2 linked regions of the Homo sapiens genome follow. The protein of the gene in region 1 interacts with the protein of each later gene in a pairwise test. Each region holds a gene or a part of one and is shown on either strand. Other genes may lie near its edges. The genes, in order: PAQR5 and SGPL1.

The links.
Region 2: the proteins of PAQR5 (region 1) and SGPL1 interact in binary tests that used the Homo sapiens proteins (3 or more experiments, as listed by UniProt).

What each region holds. Positions count from the first base shown.
Region 1 is NC_000015.10:69,297,038-69,300,947, forward strand, and holds the start of PAQR5 (membrane progestin receptor gamma), read left to right. Parts: upstream 1-1,874; 5' UTR 1,875-2,019; intron 2,020-3,910. UniProt on the Homo sapiens protein: Plasma membrane progesterone (P4) receptor coupled to G proteins. Seems to act through a G(i) mediated pathway. May be involved in oocyte maturation.
Region 2 is NC_000010.11:70,874,869-70,878,778, forward strand, and holds part of SGPL1 (sphingosine-1-phosphate lyase 1), read left to right. Parts: intron 1-533; coding exon 534-680; intron 681-1,672; coding exon 1,673-1,793; intron 1,794-2,326; coding exon 2,327-2,467; 3' UTR 2,468-3,910. UniProt on the Homo sapiens protein: Cleaves phosphorylated sphingoid bases (PSBs), such as sphingosine-1-phosphate, into fatty aldehydes and phosphoethanolamine. Elevates stress-induced ceramide production and apoptosis.

The sequences.
Region 1 (3,910 bases):
AATACTCTAAATGCATCTCCATGTGGTCTAAGTACCCCCCTCCCCGGCCCCTCCCTGCCCTTCCCCCTCCTCTGATCATCCTGTGTGCTCACCATCCACAATCCCCTCTCCTGGCTCCACATCATTCTCCAAAGGGTTCATGTTCAATCATTCAGTTAGACTTTAAACTCCCTAAGAGCAGAGGAGGGTGATTTTGGCCAAGATATGCAGATCGATTCATCAGTAATCCACTGACCACCTCCATTTAGGTTGGGAGCCTCTTTATCTTCCCTCTTTAGTTTCTTCAAGGTGCACACACAGATACCTACAGCAGGCAGGAATCCAGGTGGGGCACCAGGCATCTCTGCTCACCTTGGCTGCTGGTGGTGGGGTGCCTGCCTGTGCTGTGCATGCTGCAGCTTTGGCAGGGTGGCCAATCAGTCCAGTGCCAGCCTTTGCCTCCCAGAGAATGCTTCACACCCTATTCTTCCCCCAAACCCATCACTGGCCCAGACATCAAAAGCACACATCCCTGTGCTATTCCCCTTCAAAGAGCTTCATATCTAATATCTCACTGAGTCCCCCGACTAGCCTTGGAAAGGCAAAGCAGGGATTATTAATCTCCATTTTGTAGATGGTGAGGGTCTTGTCCAAGGCTACTCTGAATTCAGCATAGAGCTGGGACTGGGCTCCACTCTTGTGTCCAGTCATTCTTGTCAAACTCTGGTCTGTGGAATATACATGCCTGCCTCTGTGTAGGCCCCAGTCTCTTTCCCTTTAAGAACTTGGGTCTGAGAGGACAAGCGCATGTCGCACGCACACACACACGCACATGCATACACACCCTTACAAGATGCACAGCCACCAAAAAGCCTAATAAAGCAAGGTGCCCAAGACCACGGTTCAGGATCCGTAAAAATGGCCGGAGATAATTGACTGCAACCTATTCACTGCAAATGGGGCAACTTGGGCCCACAAAGGGCCAGAGACTTGACCCGAGTCACAGAGTAGACTAGAGCCCAGGTCTCTGGACTCCCAGTCCTGTGCTCTCTCCACTGTGTGTGCCCTCAGCAAACAAGGCAAGGCAGGGAGGAGCAGGAGCTCAGAGAGCCTGGGGCTGAAGGGTGGGAGGAAAGAGCCTGGTGGGGGACTTCGGTCCACAGGTGTGGATGTTCCAACCTTTCTCTGGCAGGGTCGGGGTGGGGGCACCAGGTAGCTGCAACCTGTTCCTTCAGCACCTGGGAGGAGACACAGAGTCTGGTTCCCTGAAGCCAAATGTTTCTTCTTTGTCCTCTGTGTCCCTTCATCTCTTATAGCTGTGTCCACTGAGTGGCAGAGGTCCAGGCCCAGCGCCTTCCAGTCTAGGAGCCTGTGACCTGGGACAGGATCCCTGGGGAAAGGGTGAGGGCTGGCAAAGGGCCCGCCACCCTGAGCACTCCAAGAGACAGGGGTGGAACTCACTTCAAGGATTCAGGGCGGCGAGGATCCTCTCCCACCGGCGAAGCGGACACCGCGGTGGGGCTGCGAGTACCCAGTTGTTGTTTTTTTCTCCTTCCCTGTTCTCCACCCCATGCACTTTTCCGAGGGGCAAGCTCCGCAGTTCTCCCATCAAGGAGGCTCTCCAGGCTCCCTGCCGGCCTTCGGCTCCTGGGGTGGAGGTGGGCGTGGGGTACATGGGCCCTAGGAGAATGGGGTGTGAGAGACTCCCCTGGGCTTATGGCTTTGGTGGCACCTCAGGCTGTGGAATGGGGTGGCGAGTCTTTGGAAGTCACAGAGCCCAGGGTCGGTGGCACGTGATGAGGCGCAGGCCTGGCTCAGGGGGTGGTGCCCACGGCCCTCGGCTCCTCCCCCGGGGCCGCCCCGCCCCGCGCGGGAGGGGACGGGCGGGGACCGGCATGGGTAGGCGCGGCGACCCGCAGGGCCAGGTGCAGGGCCCGCGAGTCCGGGGTCGCCGCAGCCCGGGAGGAGTGTCTGGTCTCCGGCCTGCCTGTGCTGTCCCCGCGCCCTGTCCACTGGACTCCCGAGACCCTTGGAACCCAGGTAACCCGGGGCGGGACTCCCCGCCGCGCGCCGCCTCCCCACCTCCCGGTCCACGCGCACCCGCCCTCCGCGGCAGCCCCAGCCGCCCTGCGCCCGTGGAGCCCGTTGAGCCTGGGTGGCCGCTCCGAGGGCGGGTCTGGGAAAGTTTGTGCCGGGGCGGCCCTGATCCGGCGGCGGCGCGGCTCGGCCACTTTCACCGCACGCGGGGCCGGTGTGAAGGTGGGGCGGCCGCCGCCGTGCAGAAGGCTCTCTGCTGCAATCGAGGGCGGTGAGGGGAGCTGTTGCCTTCTCGCACCTTTTCTCTCACTCTCCAGGGCGTTTGCGCCGCTTATCCTTCCTCCACCGCCCCCCTCCCGCCGCCCCCACTTTAATAAAACCCTTGGATTGGGGCTGCACAGTTGGCGATTTCTTTACACCTGTGCTTCCCGCCTCCTGAGCCCAGATGTGAGCCTGGGCTGAGCAGGACCGTGTGGGTGAGGGGCGGCCCACTGCCTGCGGGGGTCGTCCCGGCCCTGTTGAAGTGGGTGCCCAGCTACAGGGAGTTCCCCCTGCTCTGTCATTGGCCTCCCCCCGGCCACAGCCCCCAGCTGGGCATCTCCTGGCTCCCCTAGCACTTCCCAAGTCCTAGTCGGATGAGCCCAGGAGAGGGGGTGGACCCCGGCCCAGCAGAACAAGAACTCAGGAGCCCGGTAACTCTTATCCGTGAGCAGAACCGGCTTCCTCCCGCTTAGGTTGGGAGGAGGGCTCAGCTTAGTGGGAGTCGGGGGTGACAACTGCCCCTTCCCACGCAGAGCCATAGAGAAGAGATGGGGAGAGGTCAGGGGATCTGAGAAGAGCTAGCAGCCAAAAAGGGACACATCCCTGATTTCATTTGAACCTAACAAACCAATGGCGAGTAGATATTAACACATGGGCAGATGAGAAGACAAGGAGGCCCAACAAAGCTCAGCCATTTGCTGGAGAAACTGGTGGGCTTTTCTCCACCACTGAGTGGCGGGTTTCCCACCGCATCCTTCCAGAGCTGCATGGTCGCTTCTGCATTCTTGCAGTGCCCTTGACTCAGCAGAGGTTTGTTTCTTTTACCCCACTCCCCACCCCCCTAGGTTCTGCCTGTGAAAGAGGTTCAGGGGAGAGGGCACCTCCAAGCAGACACAAACTCCAGTCAGTAAGGTCCTCCAAGAGCCAGCCAGAGCCTTGCTAAGCTCCCAGAACTGCAGGAGGGCAGGGACCTGCTTTGTTCCCTGCAGGGACCTGCTTTGTTCCCTGCCGTAGCAATAGTACCTGGCACACGGAAGGTGCTCTGCGAGAATGGAATGATTAGCCTGCAACAGCAAAGCTTCTTTTCCAACTGCCTTATCTCTGCCCTTGGCAAGCAGAAAGGGCACTCTGAAAAGTTGGATCAGAAAGGTGTCCAGCCCCACCACTGAGATCCCTTGGCACCCTTACCCACGTGGGGCAACATTTTCCCCTTACACCAAGAGTACATCCTTAATCCCGTATGCTTTTCTTTCTTTCTCTTTCTTTCTTTCTTTCCTTCTTTCTTTCTTTCTTTCTTTCTTTCTTTCTTTCTTTCTTTCTTTCTTTCTTTCTTTCTTTTCTTTCTTTCTTTCATTCTTTCTCTTCCTTCCTCCCTCCCTCTCTCTCTCTCTTTCTTTCTTTCTTTCTTTCTTTCTTTCTTTCTTTCTTTCTTTCATTCTTTCTCTTCCTTCCTCCCTCCCTCTCTCTCTCTCTTTCTTTCTTTCTTTCCTTCTTTCCTTCCTTCCTTCCTTCCTTCCTTTAGTTCGTTTTCTTTCTTTCTTTCTTTCTTTCTTTCTTTCTTTCTTTCTTTCTTTCTTTCTTCCTTCCTTCCTTCCTTCCTTTCTCTCTCTCTCTCTCTCTCTCTCTTTCTTTC
Region 2 (3,910 bases), on another chromosome or scaffold:
CACTCTAGCCTGGGTGACAGAGCAAGACCCTGTCTCAAATAAATAAGCAAACAAATAAATAAAAATTAGATATATATAAAAGGTCCTCCTATAGCTCTGATAGGGCCATTTATTAAGACCTGCTATACCATTTCTTGCTTTAGGGATTACATATGACTTTTTAGAACTGTGGAGATGGGCAGATTACTTTTCCAGAAATTTTTTTAGTACATCTTTCATGCCTCAGAAGCATCTAGGGGAATATAATTGGGAGTTGGGTAGACAGGTTCGAAGTCAGTGATTGAGTCATTAGATCTAGATGGGGTTTGGGCCTTGGAATTCCATTTTTATTGTTCCATCTATGATTCTGATCTCAGTAAGAACCACTGATCCAGTGTAGCCCTCTTCTTTTTTGAAGATGAGAAGACTAAAGCCCAAAGGGTTAGATTGCATTCATTATAAGGAAGACTTTGAATGATTAAAGAGATAGTGACCAGGGGATTGTATGTGACTGAATTTACTTTTTCTTCCTTCATTTATTTTTTTGTTTTAAGACTGGAAAATATCAAAGGCATCTTTGTTTTTGGGAATCCCCAATTGTCAGTCATTGCTCTGGGATCCCGTGATTTTGACATCTACCGACTATCAAACCTGATGACTGCTAAGGGGTGGAACTTGAACCAGTTGCAGTTCCCACCCAGGTAAGCTTGAAGAAGCCTCTTTCCCTTATTTTGCTCCATGATTTTGGAAGAACTTGGGTGGTACAGTAACCTGAAGTATAGAGTTTGACTGCTAGAGGCTAGCACGTTAGTAGCAACTGTAGTATATAAAGGATTTCTCTCTTGCCACCTGGAATTATTAGATACAAAGAACAAGACCATTAGCTTTAAACTCTGGCAGAATTAGGTGACAGCCTCCTAGACCAGTGGTTGGTCATGAGGTTTTTCTCTCAGTCTCTAGCCTTTCTACTCTCCAATCCATCTTGTACACAGCCATCAAATTGCTCTTATAAAATACTTGTTACCTGGCTAATATTTAGTTCAAGATCTTCCTGGGGGTCTCTAATCATTCAGGCCTGCTACTGCCTTCTTTATTAGACTTTTCTAACCTAATCTTCCATGATGCCTTTGAGTAAATGCACCACTCCAACTGAGTACAGGTCTGTTCATGTCCTCTGTGTACAGCTTAGCCTTCCACACGTTGGTGCATTGCCAGTCCCATCTGGACTATCTTTTTCCCTCTTCACAATTCCAGTAAACCCCACTAAATTCCTCCAGGGCGAGGTAGAATTTCTTCTGTGCCCTGAAGTCCTTTAAGACCCCAGCCATGTGGCCCTGTCCCCATGAGAGCACATGGGGGCTGATTATCTAAGATAAAAGTGTCTCATTGATGGTGACGTGGTTGAAGGAATGGTGGTGGAATTTGTGAGGGGATGGGTGGGACAAAGCAGCCAACACTGTTCATCCTCTTAGCATGGTTCTCAGTCATGCCGAGAAGCTCTGAGGCCAGCCCATGCCTGACACCCCAAGCATGAGAGAGCCGAGATTCCCAGGACTAGGAACAACTTGGATGACTACACTTGTCAGAAATATTGTGAAAGGGCAACCAGGAAATTCCCGTATTTGGGGCTGCATCATTTTAGAACATTTTTTCTTTCTTCAAGGTTCATCTCTCTCTGTCTCTTCTTTCCTAGTATTCATTTCTGCATCACATTACTACACGCCCGGAAACGAGTAGCTATACAATTCCTAAAGGACATTCGAGAATCTGTCACTCAAATCATGAAGAATCCTAAAGCGAAGACCACAGGAATGGTAGGGACACTTGGAGTTTTTTTTCTTCTCTTGGAAATTTAGGTGTTGGTGGAGAGTTTGAAGGAATCATATGACCCGGAGTCTGTTCCTGCCTCTGCCCCTTTGCCACAGACATCTTTTATTTGTTGACTGGAGCTGATGATCTCTGCATCACCCACCCCTTAGGGTTGCTGAAGTCTCAAATGAGATACACTATAAAGTACCTTGTAAGTTAGAGACTTCTGTATAAAAGCAGCTGGTGGTAGTGTCCATTTGAAAAGAAAATTTTGTCACAGGAAAGATAGTAAACATGTTTTTTCTGGAATTTTCTTAGGCTAGTCCCTTTATGCAGAAAGGCAGACTGGAAAGTCCCTGTGAAAAATTGACTATGCCAGCTGTTTTTCTGATAGAATGATGGGATGCCTTAGGTGGAAATGGGGTAGGGCAGTGCACATGCGAAGCTAGGACTCGGGGAGAAGGGGCTCATTGCTGCAGTTTTATTCTTGCTTTTGGACCTGGCCTCACTAATAATGTCTCTTTCTTTGGATTTGTAGGGTGCCATCTATGGCATGGCCCAGACAACTGTTGACAGGAATATGGTTGCAGAATTGTCCTCAGTCTTCTTGGACAGCTTGTACAGCACCGACACTGTCACCCAGGGCAGCCAGATGAATGGTTCTCCAAAACCCCACTGAACTTGGACCCTTTCTAGTCTCAAGGGGATTCCAGCCTTCAGAAGGTTCTTGGGATATGGAACAGGCCGTGCACAACTTTGACATCTGGTCTTGCTCCATAGAGCACAACTCAAGATAGACCATGAGACAGCTTGAGCCTCAGGATTCTTGTTCTTCCTCTTATCTTCCTTTTGTGGTTTTTAATTTGAAGACCCCAGAGAATTCCATTACATAATGATTTTGCCCTTGTTATAAATGTTACCCTAGGAATTGTTTTAACCATTTCCTTTTCTAAACTCTCTAGCTTTCAACTTTACTTAAACATTGTGTGGTAGCTCTGACCTGTCCTGATTCTTTAGAGAAGCTGGGGTACAGTTTATGAGATAGCTAGAGCTTCTTTGTTATCTCAGGCAGGAGGCGTTTACATAACAGATGTTTCCTCAGCTGGGTGTGAGGTATACTCTAAGCAGGAGGCTTTTTCAGCCTTCTCTCTCTTTTTTTTTTTTTTTTTTTTTTTTGAGATGGAATTTTGCTCTTTTGCCCAGTCTGGAGTGCAGTGGCATGATCTCAGCTCACTGCAACCTCCACCCACTGGGTTCAAGCGATTCTTCTGCCTCAGCCTCCCGAGTAGCTGGGATTACCGGCACCCACCACCACGCCTGGCTAATTTTTCAATTTTCTTTTTCAGTAGAGACGGGTTCACCGTGTTGGCCAGGCTGGTCTTGAACTCCTGACCTCAGGTGATACCCGCCCCCCCGCCTCAGCCTCCCAAAGTGCTGGGATTACAGGCGTGAGCCACCGTGCCTGGCCCTGTCTCTCTTAAGAGTAGGTTCATTGTCTGTCTTAGAGTCACTTCTATTGCAACTCATTTTCTTTTTCCAGGGCACAGATCGACCAAGCTGCCGTTCCCTATTCTGCAGGACAGGACTATTCTAGCATACCTGCTTCGTCCACCCAGGCAGGGTTTGGGGTGGTCTCTTCTGTGCCTGCAGTCCCCATTTGACACTTGGTTGCCACCATCTTTGGAGATTATTGTTTGGAATGATGCTTCCATTGGCTTTTTCTTGTTACCATGGACTAGGAAGAAAACATGGTTTCCAAATAATCTGGGAGCTTTTGGCCATGGTGCCGCCTTCCTGAATTGGCAGTGGTCAGAGCACACCTGAACCCTATCCTGGGCTGGTGATGAGCAGAAATCAGACCTTTTTCTATGCTTTTTTGAATATCAGAGTAGGATGAACACCCAGATTCAAATATGTCACCAAAGTTGGTGGTGGTCCTTCCCTGCACCCTTGCGTTAAGCCATTATGTAATGAAAATGTGTTTGCTTGAAGGAACAGCTCAAAGCACCTTCACAAGTTGCCTTGACTTACCCTAGGTGGGTGTGAAAGAGCACCCGTAGCAAGGAAAATTTTCTCTATTAGTGTGTTCTTCTGCCTCTTCCCCCTTGATTCAGCTTTCAGA